2 linked regions of the Homo sapiens genome follow. The protein of the gene in region 1 interacts with the protein of each later gene in a pairwise test. Each region holds a gene or a part of one and is shown on either strand. Other genes may lie near its edges.

Region 1 (4,441 bases):
CATTTTATTCATGCCTTTCTTTTTAAAGAATTCTCTATCCAGTTATACTGTAGTCTTTTTAGTGCTGATTTTTTAATTCCTGAATTTTTGCTGCTCATGACCAGTTTTAATACCACTGTGTTTTCCTTCTATTAAACCAGAAGAAGTAAACAGCATAATTGGCAACTCTTGAGCTTTTCTTGTGGCAGGCACCTTTTACCCTTGGTGCTCCAAATCCCCCATCTAGGAAAGAAAATTTTTTCAAGTCAAATAACATTGATCACATATTCCTTGAAATCATTTACCAACACTGTATGGAGCATTAGGATTTAAATATGAATTTGTCTTAAAGGCAATTCCTTTTTGCTTCTGTATTATCTGGAAAAGCATGAGAGAGGTGACACCTCAACAAACTGATCAGAGAAAATAAGCAGTTACTACCCTGATAGGCACCTTCCCAATCCTGTTGCTTTTGACCATTGTCTGTCCAACGGACACACCTCAAACAAACAAAACTACCAAATAGATGACAGATCAGAATAAAGGTGAGAGGTCTGGTCCCCATTGAAGGCTGCTACAGTCTTCAAAGAGGTGAAGGAGTTCATAAGAGAACAACAGTAGGAAAGTTGAGAGCCAAGGGTAGGAGAGTTGCCCAAAAGACTTCCCCTACTACTTTAGGGTACTGAAAACTCAAAGGATCAGCTACAGCTTTATCTAAGTATTTACTAAATGCTACATGAGGGTGTCCCTGTCCAGCTTTCTGGCACATGAGTCCTGTGTGGAGAGTTACCTCCTCTTCCAGGGACTGTGCTGTTGGGAACTTTGGGCAAGTCACTTACCTCTTTGTGCCTCAATTTCTGTATAATATTTCTAAGCTACCTCACTGAGGTGGTATGAAGATTCACTAATGTATGTAGCGTGTTTGTCAATCCTCCAGTGAAAAGCACTATCTAGATCACATTTTGGATCACATTAGCCAAATGCAGTAAATGGCCAAATTAGATGTGTGCTGAAGACAATCAGTCACTGGGTCTATATTAAACAGCAACCAGAGCAACAAATGGCAAACAATTTCTATTTTCAAGTTTCTTTGCATATTTTTTTGGTGCAAAACCATTTATAAACTTTTTTTTCTAACACTAGTGTCTACAGCAGCATTCAAAAAAATTCTGTTACCTTTTCTGTATTAGGATTTAAAGTCTATTTCTTATTGTATACCTGATTGAAGCTGTTCTTGGAGATGAATGTTTTAAATGTCTATATCCAAAAAATAAACATTTTGATGTAACTGTGGACTGTCTTTTTTTTTTTTCAATTTTCTAGTTATAATAGTTTTTTTATTCTAAGTGGCTCCGTGGAAATTATTTTTCAGAGATAAGGTGTCACTGTATATGCTGTGAATAAGCAGCTATATTATGTAGTAAGTAAACCTAGTTTGCTAAATGGTGCTAAGGACTGCTCAATTACAGTCCTGGCCTTCTTCACTATCAACTGGGACTTTTGACTATGAACACCTTGGGATAATGAACATTCCACTTAATTTGGGAGACTTGAGCTTTAGCCTCGTTAACATGAAATTATTCCAGCAGAATTCCTCTAAAAGATGTCACATTAAAAAGGCTTCCAATGGGTGTAGACCAAAAAAAATGAGAGCATACTTAGGGACACAAAACACATAATTATTTGGTTAGATCCACAGTAATGGGAAGTAAAGTTAAATACCAACAATGTTTATAAAAGGACCTGAGTTCAAGTTTTATAATCAATGGCCCCCTTGTTAATACAGCCATAGGATTTAATTATTTGCACTTATTCTCTATTCTAACAAAGCCAAAATCAGTAGACTGTCATATTGCTAAATATATGCTATATGGTTGATGTAAAATTAAACACACGATTAAAAAAAAATTAAGCTCTTTAATTATGTGCACACAGATTTTAGAAAAGGTAGCCTTTTGTATATAGATACCTTTACATTCTTTAGGCTGACTTTTAAATTGTCATCTTTTTTCAACTACAGTTTTTGTATATAGTAAACCAGAAGATGTGTATGGACCCTGTTATGGCCAAGCATCTCAAAGATGAAGAGAGAATTAATGATAGTTATATTTCACTCAAAATGCCAAAAAAAAAAATTCAACAAAGTAAAAATTTTAAAACTTGACTCTAACTAGTTCCTTTTTGTTTTACATTCTCAAACCATTGTCAAATATTCTAAATATCTCTGAGAATTTCTCTTTTAATGCTTCACTTGTATAATCTTAAAATCCTGACAGTCATACAATACAGCATGTAGTAGGTACCTTTTCTTGAGGCACATTCAAGTGTTTTGGCAAACAGTAAAAAGTATCTAAATGCCACAGGTTAAAATGTCAAGTTTTACTGAGTCACCAACTTCACCTCTTTTGATCTGCCTGTTCTCCAAGAACATCATTCTCCGGAAGATCCAAGTTCCTCTAGTTGTTTTCTTTGTGTTGTTTCCAGTTCTTCTAGTCTTTTGCGAAGTAGAGAGAGTTCCCTTTGATGTTGTTCCTCCTTAAAATGATGTAGAGAAAGCATAGCAAAAGAAACTATTAGAAAAACTGTTAGGTAGCAACCTTGGACTGCCTCTTTTATATATGCCTATAACATCTGGCAAGGAAATGCTGACCACTGTAGCAGTCTAAAAACAGTAGCATGGGCTAAACTACCATCTAGTTTTGCTTCTCTCCTGCCTCAGGCTCTAGCCTTAAGCAAAACCCGTAGTCTGTTCTTCTCTAGGTATAAAATTCACCAGGGAGTGAATTAGAAAATACTAATGCAGGGCCCAGGTATACTTACATGGTAACTTTCCAACAACACTGGTGTTTAACAGCAGTTTATTATAAACAAAGCACTTGGCCTGAGATTCAATTCAGTGATTAAAATCTTCTGTGCTTATGTTATAAAACATAATTACTTATTAATACTCCCATCTTCTGAAAAAGAATCAATCTGATTCCTTCAATACCTCAGGGGCTTGATACAATAGAAAGAGCCCGGGTTTTGGATTCAACAGGTTTAGGTTTGAAACTTTGTCACTTATTAGCTATGACCTTATGCAAGTCACTTCACTCTGAATCAGTTTCCTTATCTATGAATTAGGAATAGTAATATCTGCCCTCAAAGCATTTTTCGTTAGTATTAGACATTGCACGGAACATGCACAGTTCACTGCGTTAGTAAATTCTCAGTAGTAATTACTATTAACATTATGAATAAGCTACAAACTCTAGGTTACTCAATGACTCAATCAAGTTTCCTCTTTTCTATCGTCCAGTAAGAGATTTCACTCTCAGCACCAACACTAAAGGATCATGATTCAAACTGAATTCAGCAAATTTCTATGCTAAATGAAAGGGAAGAAGTTAAAAGTAGTTTTAAATGTTTATGCCATTTTTGTGGTGAATTTTGAGCACTGACCAAAGTTATAATTTGAGTTTTATCACCATATTTAAACATAAAAACCTACAAAAATGTACGACTTTTTTTTTCCCCCTAAAATAAATGCTCATACCTGCATATGAGGAGGAAATGGTAGTTCCATGCTTGGAACCATGGCTGATGACTGAAAGCTAACAGGATTGATAGATGCTGTTGGAGGCATGTTAGGAACCAAAATTAGACTTCGAAATTCATTATGTCTTCTCTGTATATCTTTTAGTCTTTTTTGAAGCCTTGTATAGTCTTCAAAAGGAACATTTTGTCTTAAAAAGAAAAAGAAATGTTTCTTTAACATGGTTATACCCTATTGAAGCACAGTATGATTCACAGAATATAATTTTAAACTGGAATTTCTAAATTATGAGATCTATATATAATATATAGATAAAAAATCTGTTTACCTAGAAAGATAAACAGAAACATGACATAACATCTTAATCATTAGCAATCATTAGCATTGCAGACTATCAACTCATTATAAAGTTTTATTTGCTAATTAAAGATCTAAAATCTTTTGATACTTTGGTACTCACTCCTACCCTCCTACTCACCCCCATTCATGAATCCTGAAACTAAAGGGAGACTCTAAACCAAAAGAGTGCCTTATCTTACAGAAAGAATCAAATAAAAATACAGTTCATCCCTCAGTATACACATGGGATTAGTTCCAGGACATCCCTCATATATCAAAGCCTGTGCATACAAGTCCTGCAGTCAGCCCTGCAGAACCCTCATAATGGAAAAGTTGGTTCTCTGAACTGGTGGGTTTCACATCCTGTGAATACTATATTTTCTATCCATGTTTGCCCGAATAAAAATCTGTATATAAGTAGACCCATGCAGTTCAAGCCCATGTTGTCAAGGGTCAAGTGTAAAGAAAATGCTGGATTGAAGCTTACAAAATTGCCATTTTTAAATAGGTGAAATATGGTCAAATATAGAGATTTTCATAGTTCAATCTAATTTTCAAAATGTCAGTGTAATATTTTAGTAAGAAATA
Region 2 (8,771 bases), on another chromosome or scaffold:
TTGAGGCCAGGCACGGTGGCTCACGCCTGTAATCCCAGCATTCTGGGAGGCCGAGGCGGGCAGATCACAAGGTCAGGAGATCGAGACCATCCTGGTTAACACGGTGAAACCCCGTCTCTACTAAAAATACAAAAAATTAGCTGGGCGTGGTGGCGGGTGCCTATAGTCCTAGCTACTCGGGAGGCTGAGGCAGGAGAATGGCGTGAAGCTGGGAGGTGGAGGCTGCAGTGAGCTGAGATCGTGCCACTGCACTCCAGCCTGGGCGACAGAGCGAGACTCCATTTCAAAAAAAAAAAAAAAAAAAAAGTCTCTTAATTTTGAAAGGGAAACACTTTCATTTTTCCTCTTTATTAATGGCAGATATATTTATTAAAGTGCTGGTTTATAAATAGGTTAGAGAAATAAAACAAGAAAAGAATCTCAAAATAATCTACTGAAGAAAACAAGGCAAGTACATATTTAAAAAAATATACCATGATGGGCACGGTGGCTCACGCCTGTAATCCCAGCACTTTGGGAGGCCTAGGCAGGTGGATCACCTGAGGTCAGGAGTTCGAGACCAGCTTAGCCAACATGGCAAAACCCCATCTCTACTAAAAATACAAAAAATTAGCTGGGTGTGGTGGTGGGTGCCTGTAATCCCAGCTACTTGGGAGGCTGAGGCAGGAGAATTGCTTGAACCCGGGAGACAGGTTGCAGTGAGCCAGACTGTACCACTGCACTCCAGCCTGGGTGACAGAGCAAGACTGTGTTTAAAAAAAAAAAAAAAAAAAAAACAAAACACCAATCACACTACTGGGAAAGAACAGTTATTTAGGGTATAGGGTGGATGAGCCAGGATATTTAAGATATGTTTATTATCTGAGAGAACAGTAAGAGGCCCCTTTGGAAAATGTCCTGAGAAAGCTGAGGTGAATGTGGGGCCTATCTCATGTGCTCACCCTGTCAAGGATCGTGGCTTTCACTGACTTACCCGTCCAATGCCACAGTTACCCATCCAATGCCACAGTAAAGGGAAGGAGTGGGGAGAGGGAGAGGCAGGGGGACTATGAGAAGAAATAAAGGCCTTTTCCCCGCTTACAATTCTGTTCCTAATAAACTCCTGATAAAGCCACTCATGAGATAACCAAGAGCTATAAAATGCAAGCTTACCTGGATATGGCACTCGGCCCTTTGTTACTAGTTCTGTTTGCAGAATTCCAAATGACCAGACATCAGACTTTATTGTAAACCGACCATACAGTGCAGCTTCAGGAGCTGTCCATTTGATTGGAAATTTTGCACCTAAAATAATGTTGACCATCTTGCTTAATTGTTTTTTAAAAATCTATTTGTGTAAACATAGCATATGCAGGGCTAATGTTCTGTCAATATCTCTACTGTAGTCATCAGTGTCAATTCTTTAAATGTACAAGATACATGGGATAAAAATTCTTTAATTTTTAAAATTCATATTGAAATAAATCACATTTCTTCCTGATTAGACAGCTGATGATATAAAAAATAAGTTGGCTGTGGGAACAGAAAACAATTTAAGAAAATAGAGGTTGAAGCTCTAGTAAGCCAAAGATACATGTTATAATATGTGTAACTTTTAAGTACAGTCTGGCACCTAATAGCTGTAGTTAACTATTGGTTGATGAGTGAATATTCTATTGAGTTATAATGTTTATGGGTTTTCCTACTTTTTATATCATTCTGGAAAATTTTATTGTACTACTTTTAAAAGTCCATGTTAATTAACTCAAATACTTACTGTATATCTTTTTTGTGGAGGGCATTATGCTAATCACTATGGAAACCTAAAAAGCATGGCTTTCGGCCGGGCGCGGTGGCTCAAGCCTGTAATCCCAGCATTTTGGGAGGCCGAGGTGAGTGGATCATGAGGTCAGGAGATTGAGACCATCCTGGCTAACATGGTGAAACCCCGTCTCTACCAAAAATACAAAAAATTAGCTGGGCGAGGTGGCAGGAGCCTGTAGTCCCAGCTACTCGGGAGGCTGAGGCAGGAGAATGGTGTGAACCCAGGAGGCGGAGCTTGCAGTGAGCTGAGATTGCGCCACTGCACTCCAGCCTGGGCAACAGAGTGAGACTCCGTCTCAAAAAAAAAAAAAAAAAAAAAAAAAAAAGCATGGCTTTCATGAAGTTTATAAACTTATTGCAGAAATAATATTATAGGTGTCTTACATTCTTTAAGTTATTTATATGTGTTTGTAGATAGTGTTTTAAAACAGAGTTCTTTAGATATTTAGACAAACAGATGATCAATTTTCCTTGGCACCATTACAAAATGTTTTATTTAAAAAGTGGCAGGTGGTTGGGCACAGTGGCTCACGCCTATAATCCCAGCAATTTGAGAGGCCGAGGTGGGCAGATCACCTAAGGTCAGGAGTTCAAGACCAGCCTGGCCAACACGGTGAAACCCTGTCTGTACCAAAAATACAAAACTTAGCCAGGTGTGGTGGTGCATGCCTGTAATCCCAGCTACTCGGGAGGCTGAGGCAGGAGAATTGCTTGAACCTGGGGGGCAGAGGTTGCAGTGAGCCAAGATCATGCCACTTCACTCCAGTCTGGGCAAAAAAGCAAAACTTGGCCAGGCGCGGTGGCTCACGCCTGTATTCCCAGCACTTTGGGAGGCCGAGGTGGGCGGATCATGAGGTCAGGAGATTGAGACCATCCTGGCTAATACGGTAAAACCCCGTCACTACTAAAAATACAAAAAAAAAAATTAGCCGAGCTTGGTGGCAGGCACCTGTAGTCCCAGCTACTCGGGAGGCTTAGGCAGAATGGCGAGAACCCGGGAGGCAGAGCTTGCAGTGAGCCAAGATCGCGCCACTGCACTCCAGCCTGGGTGACAGAGTGAGACTCCATCTCAAAAACAAAACAAAACAAAAAAAACCAGGAGCAACTACAACATACAACATCACTAATCATCAGGGAAATGCAAATTAAAACTACAGTGAGACACTACCTTACTCCTGTAAGAATGGCCATAATGAATAAGTAAAAAAAAAAAACAATAGATGTTGGTGTGGATGTGGTGAAAAGGGAACATTTTTCCACTGATGGTGGGAATGTAAATTAGTACAACCACTATGGAAAACAGTATGGAAACTCCTTAAAGAACGAAAAGCAGAACTACCATTCAATCCAGCAAACCCACTACTGGGTATCTTCCCAAAGGAAATGAAATCAGCCAGGTGTGGTGGCTCACGCCTGTAATCCCAGCGCTTTGGGAAGCCAAGGCGTGTGGATCACCTGAGGTCAGGAGTTTGAGACCAGCGTGGCCAACATGGTGAAACCGTGTCTCTACTAAAATACAAAAATTAGCCGGGCCTGGTGGCAGGTGCCTGTAATCCCAGCTACAGGGGAGGCTGAGGCAGGAGAATCATTTGAACCTGGGAGGTGGAGGTTGCAGTGAGCTGAGATTGTACCACTGCACTCCAGCCTGGGCAACAGATTGAGACTGTGTCTCAAAGCAAAAAAAAAAAAATCATTATATGAAAAAGATACATCCACAAATGTTTATAGCAGCACAATTCGCAATTGCAGATATGGAGCCAATCTAAATGACCATTGACCAATGAGTGGATAAAAAAAAATGTGGCATATATACACCATGGTATACTACTCAGCCGTAAAAAGGAATGAAATAATGTCTTTTGCAGAAACTTAGAGCTAGAGGCCATTATTCTAAGTGAAGTAACTCAGGGATGGAAAACCAAATATTGTATGGTCTCACTTAAAAGTGGGGCTAAGCTATGAGGACACAAAGGCATAAGAGTAATATAATGGACTTTGGGGAGTAAGGGGGAAAGGTTGGGGGGTGGATAAAAGACTACATGTTGGAGGTGAAACCCCGTCTCTACTGAAAATACAAAAATTAGCTGGGTGTGGTGGTACGAGCCTGTAATCCCAGCTACTCGGGAGGCTGGGGCAGGAGAATCGCTTGAATCTGGGAGGCGGAAGTTGCAGTGAGCCGAGATCGTGCCGCTACACTCCAGCCTGGGCTGGGCAACAGAGTGAGACTCCGTCTCAAAAAAACAAACAAAAAAACCTACATATTGGGTACAGTGCAAGATGCTTGGGTGATGGGTGCACTGAAATCACCACTAAAGAACTAGTTTCCCAAAAACTATTGAAAAAAAAAGTGGCAGCTAAATTAGGCCCTAAAGAATGGTTAGGATTTTCACATGTAAAGATTACAGGCCGGGCATGGTGTCTCACGCCTGCCATTTTAGCACTTTGGGAAGCCAAGGCAGGAGGACTGCTTGAGCCCAGAAGTTCGAGACCAGCTTGGGCAACATGGCAAAACTTCGTCTCTACAAAAAATACAAAGAATTAGTCAGGCGTGGTAGTGTGCACCTGTAGTTCCAGCTACTCAGGAGGCTGAGGTGGGAGGATCACCTGAGCCCCAGGAGGTCAAGGCTGCAGTGGGCTGAAATCACGCCACTATACTCTAGCCTGAGCAACAGAGGGAGACCCTATCTCGAAAAACAACAACAACAACAAACATTACAGATAGGAAGGCATTCCAGATGGAGGTAACTGTACAGAAGTATGGAGGTTGAAAGAAAGCACTATGTCTAAAGCAGGGTTTCTCAATCTCAGCACCGCTACCATTTTGGGCCTGATAATTCTGTTGTGGGGGGAAGGGGGGGTTTGCCTGCACATTTCTGTACACTGTAGGAGGTTCAGCAGTATACCTGGCCTCTACCCACTAGATGTCAAGCAGTAGCCCCCAGGTTGTAACCACCAAAAAAGTCTGTAGACATTGTCAGATGTCCCCTGGTGAGTGGCGGTACAGGGCAATATCTCCTCTGACTGAGAACCTCTGGCCTTTCTAGGAAAGAAATTAAAATATATTTGTTGTCATGTCAAAAGAAGTGTAAAGAGGCTACTACTTGCTCTATGTATAATGCAAAGGATACCTAGTCAAGTTCTTTCTTGGAGGAAATAACTATCAGAAAGCCACAGCAGTACATGATTTTATGAATGAAATCAATGTCTCTATGACTCTTCTGAGGGAAGCTAAAACAATTCTTATTCTGGAAAACCCTGTATAGTCAAGAGAGTTAAGCAAAACACACAACACATTACAAGCTTTTATGTAAAAGTAATTTTACCTTGTCTTGCTGTGTATTCATTGTCTTCAATTAACCTTGCTAAACCAAAGTCTGCTATTTTGCACACAAGATTTTCTCCTACAAGAATATTAGCAGCCCGAAGATCTCGGTGAATATAGTTCATTCTTTCAATATATGCCATACCATCAGCAATCTTGGAAAGAGAAAAACAAAAAACACAAGACATACGATACAAAGGGAAGCAGAGAGAAGACAATTATGGTTAATATCAAATTGTGTCACTGAAAATCATATTATTTTAGAAGGAGATGATGGTAACAGGGTATAGTCTAGAAGATAACAGGAAAACCAGAAAACATAATAAAAATGCAGGCTAAATTCAGATTTCAAAAATCTAACACTGGCTGGGTGCGGTGGCCCACACCTATAATCCCATTAATTTGGGAGGCCGAGGCAGGTGGATCATTTGAGGTCATGAGTTCGAGATCAGCCTGGCCAACACGGTGAAACCCTGTCTCTATTAAAAATACAAACATTAGCTGGGTGTGGTGGCACATACCTGTAGTCCCAGCTACTTGGGAGGCTGAGGCAGGAAAATCACTTGAACCCAGGAGGCAAAGGTTGCAGTGAGCCAAGATTGTGCCACTGCACTCCAGCCTGGGAAACAGAGCGAGACTCAGCCTCAAAAAAAATAAAACCTAACATTACTCTGAAGACCAAGATTAACCCTCCTAATGTCTTCTTGTGTCTGTGGTTAGGAGAAGAGGTAAATCACAAGGTAATTTAGTACCTCTGGATACAAGCTCATCAAGGTCTCTATCAGGCACAACCTAAGATGACATGGTGATAAAGGTATTAACCACAAGGTATAGGTTCCCAAACTACAGCTTGTAGGCCAAAAGTGGCCTGCAGCCTGTTTTTGCACAGCCAGAGAACTAAAACTGTTTTTTACATTTTGATTGATTGACTGAGACGGGGTCTCACTCTGTCACGCAGGTTGGCGTGCAGTGGTGCAATCGTGGCTCACTGCAATCTCTATCTTCTGGGCTCAAGCAATTTTCCCACCTCAGCCTAGTGAGTAGCTGGGACTTAGGCATGCGACACCACACCCAGCTAATGTTTGTATTTTTTTGTAGAGATGGGGTTTCACTATGTTGCCCAGGCCCCGCAAAGCGAGATTATAGGAGCCATCTCGCACAGCCTGGTTTTTACATTTTTAAAGGGTTGTAAAAAGAAAAAAGTATGACAGATTGGATGTGGCTCACAAAACCTAATTTTTTTTTTTTTTTAAAAAACAAAAATGGATTGCCAACCTCCCCTACCATAGAGTGTCTAACTCAGAAGCATGAACTGGCGTGGCATATGCCTGTTGCCTATGTATAGTTTCTCAGTATAAAGCTTTTCTGAATTGTCAGATTCTGTGGACATTTGGAGGCTAGGAGGTAAGATTCCAAAACCAGCATGTCAACCAAAGCCAATAATAAGGCCTCTCAAATACCTACCACATATCTGAAGAGAAACTTTTAACAGTTTTCACTATATATTTAAAACAAAAAGTCAGAAGAGTAAAAAAGTCCCATTTTAAACTGTATATATACCATCTTAATTCTTGTGTTGGACTATAGTAAATAACAAATTCAGGCCAGGTGCAGTGGCTCACGCCTGTAATCCCAGCACTTTGGGAGGCCGAGGCGGGCAGATCACGAGGTCAGGAGATCAAGACCATCCTGGCGAACACGGTGAAACCCCGTCCCTACTAAAAATACAAAAGATTGGCTGGGGGTGGTGGTGGGCGCCTGTAGTCCCAGTTACTCGGGAGGCTGAGGCGGGAGAATTGTGTGAACCTGGGAGATGGAGCTTGCAGTGAGCCGAGATTGCACCACTGCATTCCAGCCTGGGTGACAGAGCGAGACTCCCATCTCAAAAAAAAAAAAAAAAAAAAAATTCAGCATACACTTTAGATTACTAATATTTTCTTTGGAACAGCCCTCATCCATTTTAATTTTCTTAAAATTATCTGTTGAAATATAAATACATATAGACTTTACATTTGTGGAAACATCTATTTTCTTGAGATGGAGTCTCGCTCTTGTTGCTCAGGCTGGAGTGCAATGGCGAGATCTTGGCTCACTCCAACCTCCGCCTCCCGGGTTCAAGCGATTCTCCTGCCTCAGCCTCCTGAGTAGCTGGGATTACAGGCGCCCGCCACCACGCCTGGCTAATTTTCAGTATTTTTAGTAGAGACAGAGTTTCACCATGTTGGCCAGGCTGGTCTCGAACTCCTGACCTCAAGTGACCCACCCACCTCGGCCTCTCAAAGTGCTCAGATTACAAGCGTGAGCCACCGCACCTGGCCTGGAAACATCTATTTTCTAAGAAACCGTATGATACAGGACACCACTGGACTAAGAGTTAGATAGCTGGTTCTAATACTCGTTCTGTTACTAACAAGTTTTGTGAATTTTAGATACCTCTCATCTTTTGATACTTCATTAATCTGTATCATTAAGAGCTCACATTGGATTATCTCTGACGTTCCTGCCAGTTCTAAAATTCCATTATTGGCCAGGTAATCCCAATACTTTGGGAGGCTGAGGTGGGAGGATCCTTTGAGCCAAGGACTTTGAGACTAGCCTAAGCAACACAGAGAGATCCCTGTGTCTACAAAAAAAATAATTTTTTAAATTAGCTGGGAATGGTGGCCTGTGCCTGCAGTCCTAGCTACCCAGGAGGCTGAGGCGAGAGGATTGCTAGAGCCCAAGAATTCAAGGCTCTTCAAGCACGGAGCTATCAGTGCACCACTGCATTCCACCCTGGGTGACAGAATGAGACGCTGTCTCTAAAAAATAAAAAATAAAAATAAAATCCCACCATTTCACTACACATACTATAATATTCTGGTAAGATTATTCCACATTTTAATTTACACTTTTAATTCAAATGGATACATGTATATATACAGATACCTGAGCAGCCATATCAACCAGCTGTGGAAGCTTCAAATACTTTCCATCTCCTTCCTTAAGGAAATCTAATAAGCTTCCTGTAACAGACAGCAAGATATTCATAAAAAATAAGCAAATCTTATATTAGGATTGAAATGAATACTCCTCCACCCCAAATCACAACACAAAACTTCTTAGCTTTTCATTTTTTTTAAATTTTGTGCAGTTTTGCAGTTTCCAAATAATTATCTAGGTCCTAGAAGAGGTCTCTAAGCTGAAATTTTGAAAACTTCTGATAACACATGCAAAAAAAGAAAATGCATTAACTTTACCTGACAAGAGGCATTTTTTCCTCGCTTTGATCAATATCCCAATTCTGATTCAAAAAGTAGTATTAAATACTTACATATTTTTAAGTAAATCTGAATCAAGAATTCAGACAACTAGGAATATCTTGGGTGTGGTTAAAACTAAATATAGGTAGCTAAATGAGTCGCTGTGGAACTACTGCTGTGACCAAGCTCTCTCTCTGAAAACTACAAAGTACTATGAATAACAGCAAAGAAAAAGGCTAGAAGTCTGATTACGGCTTCACTATTATTTGTTAAGGCTTATAATCAAGAGAAAACATCACACAAAACCAAATTAAGGCACATTTAAAACATAAAAGTGGTCTATTCTCTTCAGAAGTAACAATGCTATGGAAGACAGAGGAAGGTTGAGGAATGGCTCTAGATTA

Evidence for each region. The genes of interacting proteins can lie anywhere in the genome.
Region 2: the proteins of CEP83 (region 1) and YES1 interact in binary tests that used the Homo sapiens proteins (3 or more experiments, as listed by UniProt).

The regions. Positions count from the first base shown.
Region 1 is NC_000012.12:94,306,404-94,310,844, forward strand, and holds the end of CEP83 (centrosomal protein of 83 kDa), read right to left. Parts: intron 3,705-4,441; coding exon 3,515-3,704; intron 2,515-3,514; coding exon 2,410-2,514; 3' UTR 1,295-2,409; downstream 1-1,294. UniProt on the Homo sapiens protein: Component of the distal appendage region of the centriole involved in the initiation of primary cilium assembly.
Region 2 is NC_000018.10:731,682-740,452, forward strand, and holds part of YES1 (tyrosine-protein kinase Yes), read right to left. Parts: intron 8,131-8,771; coding exon 8,054-8,130; intron 5,281-8,053; coding exon 5,127-5,280; intron 1,285-5,126; coding exon 1,153-1,284; intron 1-1,152. UniProt on the Homo sapiens protein: Non-receptor protein tyrosine kinase that is involved in the regulation of cell growth and survival, apoptosis, cell-cell adhesion, cytoskeleton remodeling, and differentiation.